2 separate regions of the Homo sapiens genome follow, and region 2 is linked to region 1. The links come from fine-mapping of genetic effects on gene expression. Tissue or cell type: lung. Region 1 holds a variant in brackets; the other region holds the start of a gene. All regions are shown on one strand. Distances are between the middles of the regions.

Evidence for each region. PIP is the estimated chance that this variant, and not a neighbour inherited with it, causes the effect.
Region 2: SLC29A3 starts here. The variant in region 1 is fine-mapped to the expression of SLC29A3 in lung (TOPMed, PIP 0.96).

What each region holds. Positions count from the first base shown.
Region 1 is chr10:72,028,896-72,037,074 of GRCh38, forward strand. It overlaps LOC124902448 (a long non-coding RNA gene), which reads left to right. Exons shown (of 2, transcript XR_007062187.1): 2 at 1-24. Among named protein-coding and RNA genes, the nearest start is that of SPOCK2, 56 kb to the right of the region's middle. The variant T/A (reference allele first, on the strand shown) is at 4,271.
Region 2 is chr10:71,314,259-71,322,437 of GRCh38, forward strand. It overlaps SLC29A3 (solute carrier family 29 member 3), which reads left to right and starts at 5,001. Exons shown (of 6, transcript NM_018344.6): 1 at 5,001-5,052. The coding sequence starts at 5,052. It overlaps LOC124902445 (a long non-coding RNA gene), which reads right to left and starts at 5,405. Exons shown (of 2, transcript XR_007062183.1): 1 at 5,304-5,405; 2 at 3,711-4,646. RefSeq lists a silencer at 4,798-5,247.

The sequences.
Region 1 (8,179 bases):
AACCTCTTTATGTAAAAAACTCAATCTGCATCTCTGGGGTTTTTTTTTCTCGTACTCTATTATCTTCCTAGGATACATTTCTGTTAACAGAATTTTAGCATCAAAGAATATCTAGGCTGGGTGTGGTGGCTCACGCCTGTGATCCCAGCACTTTGGGAGGCCAAGGCGGGTGGATCACCTGAAGTCAGGAGTTCGAGACCAGCATGGCCAACATGGTGAAACCCCGTCTCTACTAATAATACAAAAATTAGCCCGGTGTGATGGTAAATGCCTGTAATCCCAGCTACTTGGGAAGCTGAGACATGAGAATCACTTAAACCCAGGAGGCAGAGGCTGCAATGAGCCGAGATCGCGCCACTGCACTCCACCCTGGGCGACACAGTGAGACTCTGTCTCAAAACAACAACAACAAAAATCTACATTTTAGTATCTCTCAATTCATGCTGCCAACTAATGTTCTTTTTGTTGTTGTTTTTGTTTTTAAAAAATAATAGACATGGGGTCTCCCTATGTTGCCCAGGCTGGTCTCTAACTCCTGGGCTCAAGCAGTCCTCCCACCTGAACCTCCCAAAGTACTGAGATTACAGGCCTGAGCCACTATCCCAGCCTACCAACCAATGTTCTGAAATGGTTGTACAAATGACATTCCTGCCAGTTGCATATTTGAATGCCTATTTCACAGTTCCTGCACTAGTACAGGAGGCAAGGGAGTATACGCTTTCTGTCCCCCAGCCATGCCCTTTGAACCACTCTGGACTTGAGCTGCAGCTGGGCAGTCTCTCCTGTCCCCACTCACAGCTTCCCCCTCTCAGGTGCCAGTAACATCTCCCAATTTCCTGACCCCAGACTTTCTCCAAAGCTCCAGAAGCTTACTCAGCTCTCATGCAGGTGAAGTGTGGCAAGGAGTTAGTGCCCCAAGGAGACGAGAGATGCTGAAACACACCTGGGTGTTTTTTATTTGTTTGTATTGGTTTTTTTCCCTTTTATTTTCAATTGACATATAATAATTGTATATATTTATGGGATACAGAGTGGTGTTTTGATAAGTGTTGGTTTTGGTAGTGATTTATAAAAGAGGAATAACTGAGTCAACTGGAGCTATTTTTGAGGATAGAGGTGAGGACCAGATAATAACAAAATAACAATAGCAATTATTTGTTTAACACCTACTCTGTACCAGATACTGTTTCGCTGTTGACGTAAAACAATCTTGGCCAGGCGTGGTGGCTCACGTCTGTAATCCCAGCACTTTGGGAGGCTGAGGTGGGCGGATCACCTAAGGTCAGGAGTTCAGCCTGGCCAACATGGTGAAACCCCGTCTCTACTAAAATACAAAAATTAGCCCAACCTGGTGGTGCTCACCTGTAATCCCAGCTACTCGGGAGGCTGAGGCAGGAGAATCACTTGAACCCGGGAGGCAGAGGTTGCAGTGAGCCGAGATTGCGTCATTGTATTCCAGCCTGTGCAACAGAGCGGGACTCCTTCTCAAAAAAAGCAAAACAAAACAGAAACTAAACAAAAATAAAACAATCTCTCAGCAACTCTGCAAACTAGATTATTTTATTATTCCCACTTTGCAGATGAGGAAACCAGGGCTTGGAGGTGTAAAGTAACTTGCTCAAGGTCTTGAAGTTATGAGGCTGAAGCAATACGGCTTGAACAAAGACTGAGCCCCACCTCGTCTGAGGTGGCGGAATATGAGGAACATGGTCTTAGGAGGGAGGAAAGAGTGGATGATCCGAAATGAATCCCAGTTTCCCCTACAAAATATGAGGGTCATGTGCAGGGAACCCTGACCAGTCCTCCTGTGAGTGTGTGTGTGTGTGTGTGTGTGTGTGTGTGTGTGTATTAGGATGGATGGGACAAAGTGATACATTACAAAAAGCCGGGAGAAGGAGCTTGGTCCAATGCTAACCGGCGCCATGGGAGTGAGGCTCCTATCTTCCTACAGAGAGTGGGAGCAGGGGCCCTATCTTCGGGGCTTGGCTGGAACAAACAGTTCTGGCGGCAGCCTTGTGTTTGTTCTCTCGGGCAGGCAGCTTAAGGGGAGGCAGGGTCATCCTGGACTGCGGCCTTGAGCTGTTGCAAACACTGCCTCACCTCCCGCCTCACCCCACGCAGTGCTGGAACTCTGGGCAGGGGGACAATGGTGGGTCTGTGAGGGTGTCAGGTTGTCAGGAACAAGGCTGGTGGCTTTGAGCAAGTTGTGCAACCCCTTCCAGCCCCAGGTACTCATCCTTCCAGTGGAGGATGTCACGGCTGCCTTCACAGGAGATGGAAAGATCAGCCCCTCTCCCAGCTTCTTGTGGTTCATTTGCCTGACTCTCCTGAGCCTCCGCTCAACTCCTCCCCATTTCCTTCTTCTCCCAGTTTTTTTGTTTTTGTTTTTTTTGTTTTGGGGGTTTTTTGTGATGGAGTCTCACTCTGTCGCCCAGGCTGAAGTGTAGTGGCGCAATCTCGGCTCATTGCAGCCTCCGCCTCCCGAGTTCAAGCAATTCTCGGGCGTCAGCCTCCCAAGCAGCTGGAAATAGAGGTGCCCACCACCACACCTGGCTAACTTTTTTTTTAATCTGAAAAGCCAGTAAAAATGCTGAGAGGTCCCTCTGCTACCAAGGTATGTGGGCACGTGGAAGGGGTCAGCTGCCTTGTCCAGATGCTGAGGGGCTGGTAGAGAGAAACATCAGCAGATGGGAGGGCTGCTACTGTCCCACAGAGAAGGGCCAGCTTGAAGCCATGGGCTTAGGGACCCAATGTTTGGGCTGACTGTTGTTAAGAACACAGTTTTGACGTTCCCCTGAGCTGAGTTCCCGTCCCGGCTCACAGTGCTTCCCTGGCTGGGCAACCTGGGGCTTGTGATTGTCCCTTTCACAGCCTCAGTTTTCTCAGCCCTGAACGTTGTGAATGTTGTGAGATTTGAATGAGATAATGCAGACAGAGCTTAAAAAGAGGCCGGATGCAGCAGCTCGCACCTGTAATCCCAGCACTTTGGGAGGCCGAGGCAGGAGGATCATTTGAGGACAGGAGCTGGAGACTAACCTGGGCAACCTAGCGAGATCCCATTTCTATGGAAAATTTAAAAATTAGCCCGGCGTGGTGGCATATGCCTGTAGTCCCAGCTACTTAGGAGGCTGAATCGGGAGGATCACTTGAGCCCAGAACATCGAGGCTGCAGTGAGCTGAGATGTAGCCACTGCACTCCAGCCTGGGCAACAGAGTGGTACCTTGACTCCAAAAAAAGGCGGACAGGAGGGCTTAGAAAAGAGCTTGGCATGTAGAAAGCCCTCCAAATGTTAATTTATAATTATGGCAGGGATGAATTTCAAAATCATAAAGTGCTCACAGACAACAAGCTGCCTTGTCCACAGAGATGGCTGCAATTCCTCTGGAATACTGGGGGAGGGTGAACAGTGATGACTAAATCCCCCTCCTCTCAGGCCCCAGGACTCCAGGGCAGCACTCTTCTTAGCCCTGGGTGTGTGGGGGGGTAAAGCATGGGACCCTCCTTCCAGTCCCCACTGCCAGCCTCCCTGGCCCCCCAACACCCTGTCCTGCTCTGTGCCAGGAGGCTGCTCACAACCCCCGGAGCACCTTATTCCTGTGACTGGGCCGAAAGACGAGGCTGGGCGCAAGCCCGGAGCCCAGTGATGTGTCACACGTGAATCTGTCACATGTGAAGACACAGAAACAGCCCCTTGGCTGTTACTAAAGGGAAAAGAGGCCAGCAAGGTGACTCACACCTGTAATTCCAGTGTCAGAGGCATGTGAACCAGAGCAGCTCCATCTTGAATAGAAGCTGGGTAAAATGAGGCTGAAACCCACTGGGCTGCATTTCCGGATAGTTAAGACATTCTAAGTCACAGGATGAGACAGGAGGTCAGCACAAAATGCTGGTCATAAAGACCTAGCTGATGAAACAGCTTGCAGTAAAGAAGCCACTAAATCCTACCAAAACCAAGATGGTGACGAGAGTGACCTCTGGTCATCCTCACTGCTACACTCCCACCAGCGCCATGACAGTTTACAGATGCCATGGCAACATCAGGAAGTTACCCTATATGGTCTAAAAAGGGGAGGCATGAATAATCCACCCCTTTTTTTTTTAGCATATCATCAATAAATAACCATAAAAATGGGCAAACAGCAGTTCTCAGGGCTGCTCTGTCTATGGAGTAGCCATTCTTTTATTCCTTTACTTTCTTAATAAACCTGCTTTCACTGCACCGCAGACTTGCCCTGAATTCTTTCTTGCACGAGATCCAAGAACCCTCTC[T/A]TGGGACATGGGGTGGGGACCCCTTTCCTGTAACATTGGCACTTTGGGAGGTCAAAGTAGAAGGATAGTTGGAGCCCAGGAGTTTGAGACCAGCCCTAGCAACATAGCAAGACCCCATTTCTACAAAGAAATTAAAAAATGTATTAGCTGGGAGTGGTGGCATGAACCTGTAGTCCCAGGTACCCAGGAGGCTGAGGCAGGAGGATCGCTTGAGCCCAGAAGGGCGAGGATGCAGTGATCTGTGATCGTGCCACTGCACTCCAGCCTGGATGACAGACCTGTCTCAAAAAAATAATAATAAAAAGAAAAAGGAAAGAAAAGAAATGCTCCTTTTCCAAACCTTTCCCCTGAAGAGAGCCTAGCCTTAGACTCTGGCCCGTTCCCTCCCAGGCACTCCAGACTCTTGTGTCATGGGATGACCCCCCCCCCCACACACACACACACCAGCCCTGTGTCTCTCCCTGGGTGCTTTTCATCCCCGTATTAATTCTCCAACCTTTGTTGGTGAATCCTCCCCACTCCCCGCATATGATCTCTCACATGGGGCTTTAACTGATTTTAAAAAATAACATGAACAAACAGTGAAACTAAAAGCACAGCTATGTTGAAGCCTGGTCCTCTAACCTAGTTTCAAATAATAATAATGATAATGATAAATACAGCTATTATTTATTGTGCTTTGTTGGAAGGACATTAGACAATAATTCAACATTCACAAAAATCCTGGGGTAGGTATCATGATCACCTGCATTTTACAGATAGGAAACTGAGTCATGGAGACATTAAGCCACTTGCCCAAGATCACACAGATCAAGGGAAGATTGTATAAAGCCCCTTCCCACACCAGCTGCCGCTTCCCGACTGCAGAGGCTCAGGGTGCTCTCTCTGTCCTCAGAGGCTTGTGTAACCATCTCTGTGCCCCGTTGCCCGGCCTGGACATTCTTGCTTTCAGGCGTGGGCACAGGGATCCCTCCAGTTGGCCACAGGCAGGAGCATTCTGAGTGAAATGCCAAGCCTGACTTAGAAAACTCTGCCCCAGACAGCAGCCCGATCATCCGCCACTGGTCGCCTTCCTGTGTTTATTCTGAGGCCACCATGCCTGACAAAGGCCCCTTGTCCTGTCCAAGAAGGGGACAGATTTTTAAGGACATGGATTGAGGATATGGGCTATTTATTACCAGGACTGGTTCCCTCTCCCGGAGGCGTAGGAGTTGCTGTCACGGTCTGTGTGGAAGTCGATGCTGGCCTTGCCGCCCCCTCCCCTGCTTGCTGGCCCAGCTCCCTGCCCACACTCAGATCCACCTGACAGTTTCCTCCACACACACATGCACGTGTGCACAGCTTGCCAGGGTGCAGGGCAAAGCGAAAGGGTATCTCCTGAGTCTATAATGGCCTATAGGATTCCTGCACACCTAAAGTCATTTGCAAAGTGGTGGTGCATGTGGACATGTGTGTGTCAGTGTCGCATATGCAGGACAGACTACAGAAGTTGCAGGGCCCGGGGCAAAATGAAAATGTGGCACCCCTTGTACAAAAGCATTAAGCATTTCATGATGGCAACAGCAGAGCATTAAACCAAAAATGGGGCTTTTGTGAATTTGGGGTCCTGTGCAACTGCCCAGGCCATATGCCCAGGAAGCAGGCCCTGCACACACATGTTGTGTTTACACCAAGGCACTTTTCTGGTTAAAGGGCTCCAGGCTTCCATTAGAATCTCAAAGGGTGGCAGCACAGTGGCTAACACCCATAATCTCAGCCCTCTGGGAGGCTGAGGTGGGCGGATCACTTGAGGTCAGGAGTTTGAGACCAGCCTGGCCAACATGACAAGACCCCATCTCTTCTAAAAATACAAAAATTAGCCCTGTGTGGTGGCACATGCCTGTAAACCCAGCTACTCCAGAGCTGTACTCTTGTGCCTCAGAATCACTTGAGCCGGGGAGGCAGAGGTTGCAGTGAGCTGTGATCGCACCACTGCACTCCGCCTGGGTAACATAGTGAGACTCTGTCTCAAAAAAAAAAAAAAATCTCATAGAGGTCCAGGATACTCCAAAGGTTATAAACCATTTAGTAGCAGAAGGTCAGTGTCAGACAGGCCTGGGTTTGAGTCCCAGGCACGTTACTTATCCCCTGCAGGACTGGACTAAGTTCTGTGCCCTTCCGAGCCTGTTTCCTGGTCTGTAGAAGGGGGATTGTCATAACACTGACCTCCCAGTGCAGGAGAGATGGGAGCCAGCTCGATACAGTATGTGGCATGTTTCAAGCTCCCAGTCAGTGGTTGGTTAGTTAACCTTTAGTTAGGTCTGTTCTGCTTGTTATTGTGTGATGTCACCTAGAAGTTTCTAAATCCTCCTGCCAGTTTAACCTCAGCTAGCTGTGCCTTCCGTGGATGTCCCCAGCAGGCCCAGCACAAAGCATGGCAGGAGCTCTCGGGGACCCGAGTTGGCGTTTCTGTCACCTGGTCTGCTGTGAAAAGGGGTGGGCTGCACAGGCTCAGCTGGCCTCTTCCTCCGGCCCTGAGCGTTCGTTGGCTGACCTGACGGATCTGCTGTGCAGTATCTGTACTGTAAGAACATGTGACGGGGCAGCAGCCTGAGAGGACCTAGGGCTGGCGGATGCAGGGTTCTAGGCTGAGCTCAAAGGGTCTGGGCCCCTACCTGATAGCTTCTGAGTCAGTGTCACTCTGGACAGAGCCTTTTTCCAAAGCAGGACACCCAGGAGAGGGTTCTCAGGAGACCTGGGGCCCAGTGGCCCTTGGTGGCTGTATTTCCCCTCCAGTGTGGTAGCTCCTCAGGGGTCTCTGTGCTGCCTCCCCAGTTGTCCCCACTGGGTCTGCTAGCATCACAGGGAGAAGCCCCCTGTTACCTAGTCACCCCTTCCCTCCTTTCCCCAGCCTGATCTCCTAGTCCCTCCCCTCCTCTTTCAGGGCAGAGACTCCCAGTGGAGAGGAAGGAGGGGGACACCAGGCTCTAGGGCCTGAAAGGAGGGGCTGAGACGCCTGGTGTGACCTCACCTTGGGACATTACAGCCCCTCGGGCCTCCATTTCCAAGGCTGTAGCGTGCAAGTGAAGTCTTCGCTTCTGCCCCGGGGAAGCCCTGCCCTGTGCATCCAGGGAGGCTTTTCCAACACACACAATGTGCATTTCTTTTCTTTCTTTTTTTTTTTTTTTTTTTTTGAGACAGAATCTTGCTCTGTGGCCCAGGCTGGGGTGCAGTGGTGCAATCTTGGCTGACTGCAACCTCTGCCTCCCAGGTTCAAGCGATTCTCATGCCTCAACCTCCCAAGTAGCTGGGATTACAGGCGCAAGCCACCACGCCTGGCTAATTTTTGTTTTTTCAGTAGGGATGGGGTTTCACCATGTTGTCCAGGCTGGTCTTGAACTCCTAATTTCAGGTGATCCACCCGCCTCGGCCTCCCAAAGCGCTGGGATGACAGGCGTGAGCCACCGTGCCTGGCCACGCAATGCGCATTTTTGAACTGATGAGAAATGGAAAGAACCAAAGGTCCACCACGAGGGGAGGGGCAGACACATGGCTGGAGAGTCCTATTATGAAAGGTATGCAGCAGTCAGAAGCTAGGTGGGCTGACAGAGAAAGGTGTCCAGGAATTTTTTGTTTTGTTTTGTTTTTTTGTTTTTGAGGCAGAGTCTCACTCTGTGGCTCAGGCTGGAGTGCAGTGGCACGATCTCGGCTCACTGCAAGCTCCACCTCCCGGGTTCATGCCATTCTCCTGCCTCAGCCTCCCAAGTAGCTGGGACTACAGGTGCCCACCACCATACCTGGCTAATTTTTTTGTGTTTTTAGTAGAGACGGGGTTTCACCATGTTAGCCAGGATGGTCTCGATCTCCTGACCTCGTGATCCGCCCGCCTCAGCCTCCCAAAGTGCTGGGATTACAAGCGTGAGCCACTGC
Region 2 (8,179 bases), 710 kb before region 1:
TGACAGAGCAATACCCTGGCTCTTAAAAAATAAATTAGTGATGTGGAAGCAGAGAAGTTATGAGTCCGTAGTTATGGCTTTATCACCATAACTACTAACCCTATCTCTCAGAATCCTCGTGCCTCGCACGGGTATCCAGTAACCCTGGAAAGAAAGACCGTAGTGAGTGAGTGACCCCAATCTGTGAGCATTGCACTGATAGAGAAGTTCCACGAGATGGCAGCATCGGCCCATGAGCCTTATGCCTGGCGCTCTCCGCTCCGCCCGTCGCACCGCCCCCCCGCCCCAACGCCCCGCACCCTCCCCCAAAAGGAGCCTGTGAAAAATATTCTGACTCTTCCTGATTGTTATGTCGCCTGCAGGTCAACAGACCCTGGGGAAGAGAAGAAGAGGAGAGCCTGTAGGGCTCCAGTCTTAAAGATGAGGGCTTGTGTGACCCCCACTCCCAACCACTTTTCATGGAGTCTCCTGGGTGGGTTCTGGAGGCAGAAAGGCAACCATGTGAATTTTGGCTCTGCCGCTGACTAGCTGTGTGACTCTGAATGAGGTACTAACCTCTTTGTGCCCCAGTTTCCGCATAAGCTAAACGGGGCTGACAATTGCACCGACCTCATGGTGTGTGGTGGATTCTACGGGATGGGGGCGGCCGTCAGGGGGCTGGAGGCAGAGCGGGAGCTGTGTCCTCTGGCTCACCGTCTTTAACAGCAATCCATACACCTACTCTGTGCCTCCTAGAAGGCTGTTAGGTTGTTATTCTCACCCCCTTTACAGATGAGAAAACTGAGGCTTGACTTCGTAGGGCCACATAAAAAGCATCCTAGCCCAGGTCTGTCTGGCTCCAGGGCCCAGTTCTGACCACCAAGCCAAGAGGCTTCCCTATCGGCCACCCTGGCCAGCCTTGGCATCTCATCCTCCAGTTCCCTGGGCCTGGAGCTGGTCCTCTTGTGATACTGGGATGGCTTCTGCCAGCACTCAGAACCTTTCAGGGCATTTCCAAACCAAGGAGAAACAAGGTGCTTTTTCTTTTCTTTTTCTTTTTCTTTCTATCTTTTTTTTTTTTTTTTTTGAGACAGAGTCTCGCTCTTGTTGCCCAGGCTGGAGTGCAGTAGCGCAATCTCGGCTCACTGCACCCTCCGCCTTCCTGGGTTCAAGCAATTCTCCTGCATCAGCACCCCGAGTAGCTGGGATTACAGGTGCCCACCACCATGCTCAGCTATTTTTTTTTTTTTTGTAGTTTTAGTAGAGATGGGGTTTCACCATGTTGGCCATACTGATCTCAAACTCCTGACCTCGTGATCTGCCCGCCTTGGCCTCCCAAAATAATCGCGCTTGGGATTACAGGCGCAAGCCACTGCGCCCGGCCAGGGTGCTTTTTCAAAGGATTAAGGATTGTAAAATGTCGATCCAGTGGAAAGTGCTTTGGCCATTTGGAGTTTTCCTTCCTTCTCTTCTCCTTCTTATCCTCCTCCTCTTTTTCTCCTCATGTATAAGAATAAAGATGCCTAATGGATGTAGTACTTTACCATTTACAAATATTTTCCCTGACCTTCTCCAACAATACTTGAGCACAGATGGTTGTTGTCATTGAATCCACTCGGTTGCAATGCCTCATATGCCCCAGCCAGATACAGAGTTGGGAGCTATCAAGGCAGAAAAGCATGGCCACTGCATTCCTAGACACAGATGGGGTTCAGGACACACTACCGCAAACTTATGACTGTAGGAGACCAGACCAGAATAGGCCACCCAAAATATGGCTCCTTGGCATAAGAATAATTCTGAGCTGGTTATTTTGAGAAACTGCAGACACAGGAGAAGCTCTAAGAACAAAAGGAAAACTTACCCTTTGAAAGAGAAACTTACATCTTTAAAAGAAATCATACATCAGGGTGTCTCCCTGTCTGCACCAGGAAGAGAAAGATGTCTCTAATCACTAGAAACACCAATGGAGAAGGCATGGACTTCAGTCTGCAAGACCAACCTTCCCCTTGTTGACTAAGCTTTTCCTGCCCACATCCCCACAGCTGGGCCTTCTTTCTTTGTTTCAGTTGAAGATGGCATTTAAGCCTGAACTCAAAGCCGTGGTTTTTGGAGATTTACTTATTTCTCTGAGTATTTCCCAAGTGCACATGACATATACACATTACTAAACTTCTGTTTGTTTTTCTCTTCTCAATCTCAAGATTGTTTCAGGTGTCTACCCTACCTCATGAAGGCTAGAAAAAATTACCTTTCCGCTCCTATAGCACTTATCAAAAGCAATGTTCAGGATAACTTCAGGCAAGGGACAGGAACCCAGCCAATTTCTGAGGCCTGCCCACCCCAGCCTCCCCATCCCTCCCCTCCCTGGAGTCCGCTGCTATGAAGTAGGTATTGTGAAAACACTTTTATTCTGTTTCCTCTCTACTTCCCTTTCTTGACCCAATCTCCCTCTTTTCTGATCATCTGTCAGGGTAAATGTTTTTATTACCTGGTCACTGAAGGGCCTGCTGGTCAGGGGCCAGGGCAGACTCAGAGCTCAGGGCTCTGGACCCCCATTCTCCTGTTCCTTCCCTGATCCCCCAAAGCCTCAAACATTCCCTGGGAAGCTGTGTGCCCAACAGTACCTGACTCATCTTGTCCCCAAGCTAGACATTACCACCGCCATCCGCCTAGATCCTGGAGGAGAAGACAAGCCCACATTGTCCGGGAAGCAGCCCCACGGATGCATTAGCAACCTGTTTCCTCCCACGGCTTTCTGCTTTCATGATGGAGGCCATCCCCAGAGCCCCTTCCTGAACTCAGCCCTAGCAACCAGCAAATCCCCAAGTGGCTGGCGCCTCCTCCATTTGGAGAAAGACCTCAGCCTCAGAGCTCTGGAAGAGGGCTCCTGGCACCTCTGATTCTCTAAGCAGGTGTCCTGAAACTGTCTCACTCACTCACATACATGCACATTCTCCAAAGATAAAGATAACAATGACTACAAACAACTCAGGACTCTGCATGAAGTAAAAGCAATCAAGTGACAAAGCACCGGAGCTTCACAGACATGGGTCATGGTCTTGGGGCTGGACCAGAAATAGCCCTGATCTGCTGCCCTCACTGAATCCTACGGCTTTGTCCCTCGTGCTGTCCCAGCTCCCCTCAGCCTCACCTGCCTGCCTGTAACCGGGCATGACAAAAAGAGCCTTGGCTCTGGGTTCTGCCACTCCATCACTGCCAGCTGTGTGCCCTGGGAAGCCACTTGACCTCTTTGAGCCTGGCTTTCCTCATCTGTAAAATGGGGACAACAGTCCCATTTCACTGGGTACTGGGGTGGGGGGGTGGAATCAAATGGGAGACTGTTCATGAAAATGCTCTGTATATTAGAGGATTTTTTTCCAACGTAAAGAGGCTAAAAATAAGGCCTGATGACTAAACTAACATATACACTATCACATTTTGGGGGTGGGGAGTGTCTTCCTTGGAAGTGATGGAAATTTGCATTGAGTGCCTGGCATGGATCACCTGACTTAATTCTCCCGACAGTCCTAAGCCGACCCTGGGTTTCAGAGAGGTTTAGTAATTTTACCATTATCCCTCAGCTTGTAAGCCTGGAGCTAAGCCCCTTCCTCTCCTGGGCCGGGGGGCTTTCTGACAATTTAGGGTGCTAGTCTCCAAACTCGCCTGCTGGTGGAGCTTGTTAAATAGATCCATTCTGGATCCCCATTCTGCACCCCCTGAGTGATGGGTTGTATTAATCCAGGTATTTATTGAACACAAATTATGTGCCCACGATGAGGGAAGAGCAAACAAAGCAGATACAGCACCACCCTCAGGGATTGGGGAGTGGCAGCAACCCTCCTGGGGAGAGGTCCCCAGAATCTGGATGTGTACTCGAGACTTTTATGATCAGGCCAGTGTTTGGGGAATGGTGGTTATAAAATGAGAGGCTGGGGCAGGGAGTGGGGATGTTCTGAGAACCTGTCCACACACTGACAGCCTCAATGGGTTCTGTGGCACCCCTGAGCCCTGGGATGGCAACTGCAAGAATTTACTATCCATGGTCACAGATCTTCAGGCCCTGTGAAGCATCCAGATCCCCGCTCTGAATAGGCCAACTGGGCCAGGACCGGGAGTCAGGAAGGTTTCCGCCTTTTTTTTTTTTTTTTTTTTTTTGAGATGGAGTCTTGCTCTGTCGCCCAGGCTCCAGGCTGGAGTGCAGTGGCACCATCTCGGTTCACTGAAATCTCCGCCTCCCGGGTTCAAGCGATTCTCCTGCCTCAGCCTCCCACATAGCTGGGATCACTGGCACGCACCACCATGCCCGGCTACTTTTGTATTTTCAGTAGAGACGAGGTTTCGCCATGTTGGCCAGGCTGGTCTCAAACTCCCGACCTCAGGTGATCCGCCTGCTTCGGCCTCCCAAAGTGCTGGGATTACAGGCGTGAGCCACCGCGCCCGGCCCCTGCTTTCTTAAAGAACACGCGGCAGCTGTGTGTTACACGCTATGGCTGAGGTCAAGTGTGAGGGCTGGAATTGCTGACTGCCATGTTCTGGGTCTACTGAAAATAGCTGCCTGGCCTGGGAGGCCCAGTTCAGTCCGGGTGTGGGTCCCGCTTCACCTCCAGAGCAGCGGCAGCCGGTAAGGGTAGAAGCGGCCTTTGGAGAGGGGTCTCTGCAGCGGCCTGGGGACAAGATGAGGGCTCCTTTGAGTCCTGGGGTGCAGGTTATAGTAGCTAAAGGGGAGGTCTGAGACAGTGGGGTCTGGCTCCAAGGTAAAGAAGGAGCAGCAACCAAAAGGCCTGATGCGCAGCGCACCCATCGCAAGCATGGGCAGTGCGTTTAAGACTGGGTGACTCACTTTTTCTCCTATAAAATGGGCGCACGCAGGCCCCAGCTCAGCGCCAGAAGGGGGAGCCCCGGCGCGCCGGCAGAAGACAAAGGAAAAAAGCGTGTTTGCAAACGGGGAAGCGGCGGCGTGCTGCCGCGAGGGGCGGGGCGGGGCCGGGGGAGGAGCCCGCCTGCCGCCTGCCAAGCCCAGTGGTCCTGGCCGTGCGCCGGAGGCAGCGGCGGCGTGGCGCAGCGGCGACAGTAAGTGCGGGCCGGCTCGGGCTCTTCCGGCTACGGTCCCGGCCGCCCCCAGACTCGCGCTCAGCGACCTCCCTCCCGGGCCCTGGGGGCGGCTGCGGGCTGCCAGGGGAGCCGCAGGACCCTACCCCATCCGTGGTCCCTTCCCCACCGTCCCTCCTCTCTCTCCTTGCTCTCTGCCACCCCTCTTTCTGGGTCTCTATCTTCTCTTCCCCAAATCCTCTCCCCTCCTCCTCCCTGAGACTGGACCTCACCGCCTGTATGGTGGGGGCCTGGTATGGACCCGTCGGCCCGAAGTATCCAGACGGTGGCTGATTCTCTCGGTCCCAGCTGCGGGGCCTGAGGCTGGGGCTGTTTACACCGCAAAGCCGGTTCTGCCGCGGCCAGTAGGCGGTGCCCTGCGCTTCCCAGTGCCTTCCCACAGGTTAGCCCTACCAGCTCCCCACCCCGGTTCACAGCCCAGGAGATCGAGGCACAGAGGGGCGAGCCACCTAGCCAGAGTCAGGAACCTCCTTGGAACCAGCACCCAGGCTTCCCAGCCCAGATGAGGTTTTGCCGCGGCCCCAGCAGTGCCTGCCTCCTTGTGTGGGGCTGTCTGTCTGTGCATGGCCGGGCTCCCGCAGGTGACCCAGGAGCACGTTCCAGGCCACAGCCAGCTTGTTTTGGGGAAGGTTGGGCACTTCCTTGCCTGCCTTTCTCTTTATTTTTTAATCCAGAAGCCAGCAGCTAGCTTTTATAAAGACTAATAAGACTTTGCTCACTCCAGTGCCCTGGCCTGTGACCCTGGTTAGAGAAAATTCCTGGCTCCTTCTTCAGAAGCTCAGTCAAGCCTTGACAAATAGACGCTAGGAACTGAGAAGGGGGCCCTAGCCAGGTGTGGTCCTGAGTGACAGGGCTGGTGGACCTTCTAGCCGCCCCCACAGGTAGCTGGAGCCTCTGGAAAGAACCACTTGCCGGTTCTCTCTTGTTCTATGTGGGTGGGTCATGATTATTTTTTACATTTTAAACACTAATTTTTAAAATGTAACAAGTGAGCTTGTTACATTTGTACCATTTTGTGCCAGACAAAATAGCATAGACTGGGTGGCTTAAACAAAATTTGTTTCTCATGGATCTGGAGGCTGGGAAGGGCAAGATCAAGGTGCTGGTTGATTTGGTTTCTGATGAGGGCTCTCTTCCTGGCTTGCAGACAGCCTCCTTCTTGCTGTGCCTTCACATGGCTTTTCCTCTATGAGTGGGTGCATGTGGAAAAAGCGATTTTCCACACAGTGAGCTTCCAGACAGTGAGCTTGTTAATGCTGGCCTCCATGCGAATCCAGGCTGGGGAGGGGCTCTGCTAACCAGGGGAGTTTAAAATAGACTTGCTGGCTGGATGCATTGCACTTGGGCATCCAGTGGCCCCCCACCTGCTGGCTCCAGGGTACATGCTACCCCAGCAGGGGAGAATGTCCTGGTCGTGCAGAGTCCGTTCATTCAGCAAACATTGACAAGGGTGCCTGCAGTGTGCCTGGGCCCCTCCCGACTCACTGGCTTCAAGGCTTGCAGGAAGGATGCCTGTACTTGGAACCAGCAGACACAGATTCCCATTCCCAGCCAGTCCTCCCCGGTGTGCTGAGGAGTCCAGCATGGGCCCCAGTCTGCTTGGCTGTGTAACTTCACTCTTGTCATCTACTAGTTATGTGACCCTGGGCAAGTTACTCAACCTTTCTGAGCCTCAGACCCCTCTGTGAAATGGGTCTTAGAGTAGTACCTAATATATTAGGCTGTTGTCAGCCTCAAGTGTGACCTCTGTTAGGCACAGACCTTGGCATTTGTGATCACTGGACTTAAGTTTAGCTATTGGGAGTTCTTTCTATTTGTGGGACATAGCAAGTGCCTTCCAGACCTCAGTTTTTCCATCTGAAAAAAGGGGGCAATGTTTTCTGCCCTGCCTAATTCCAAGGGATGCTCTGAGGTTCTCCTGAAATAGTGGATAAGGTTCTGCACCCATGTGAGGAGGTGTTCCCATCCCACCAGGGAATAAAGGCCCCAGTCTTCTTGGTACGATGCTTTGAGTTAGGCTTAGCCTCCTATAGAAACCAAGATGCATTTATTTATTAGTTTATTGGGTGGGGAAGAGGCTACTGCAGAAGGGACTCTGAAGTGTCCCATCCTCAGCATTTTGGAGACATTTCTCATTTATCAAGCTGCTGCCACATCCTAGGTGCTATGTAGAGCAAAGAAGCAGGCATGCTACCTTACAGCCAAATTCAGCAGCCAGCCAGCCAGCCATGCGACAGGCCCAGGATGCCAGGGAGATGCTGACATTTGTTCAACAGCTGCTTATAGGCCAGGCATTGCCAGCCAGTTGCAGTTGCATAACTATCATAAAAACAGCTTCTCTGGGTTTACATTTGGGGAAATTGAGGCACAGAAATGTGGTAACTTGCCCAAGGCCATGTAGGCAATAGTTGCTGGCAGCCTAGGCTCTTCCATTTATCTTAGGCGCTACCATAGATTGAAAGTGGCTGGCTCCTTGTAGGGTGTGATGAGCAGAGGTGGGACCCAGGCAGGAGCTGCAAACCCAGGCTTGGCCATTTACGTGGCCTATGGCCTTCAGTTCTTTGGACCTCTCTTTCCTCACAAATGAAATGGGAATGGACTGTCAGAGGCTACACACCAGCTTCTGGAGGCAGCCCTGGACACTACCAGTTTTTTAAACAATTATTACTTAATTTGAATTTTTTTAAATTTACACTTTTAATTTTGTTTTTGAACCGGTAATAAACTAGTCACATAGTTCAAAATTCAAGAGACACAAATAAGAATGCAGGGAAGTCCCCCTCCCCGCCCCCCACCATCCCAGTTTCCCTCCTTAGAGACAGCCACTGTTAGAAACTTCTTATGTAGCCTTCCAGAGATATTCTGTGCATATACAAATACATATGTGTATGTATATTTTCTCTCCCCACTTTTTTTACACACATAGTAGCATATTCTACACACCATCCTGCTCCTTATTTCTTTCACCTGAAATCGAAAAGGGTTTAGAGATCATTCTTTGCCCATTAAGGGTCCTAATTCTTTTTTATGGCTGCACAGAACTGTGAATGCCCTTAGACCAGGTTTGCCTTTCTGGGTACATTGCCAC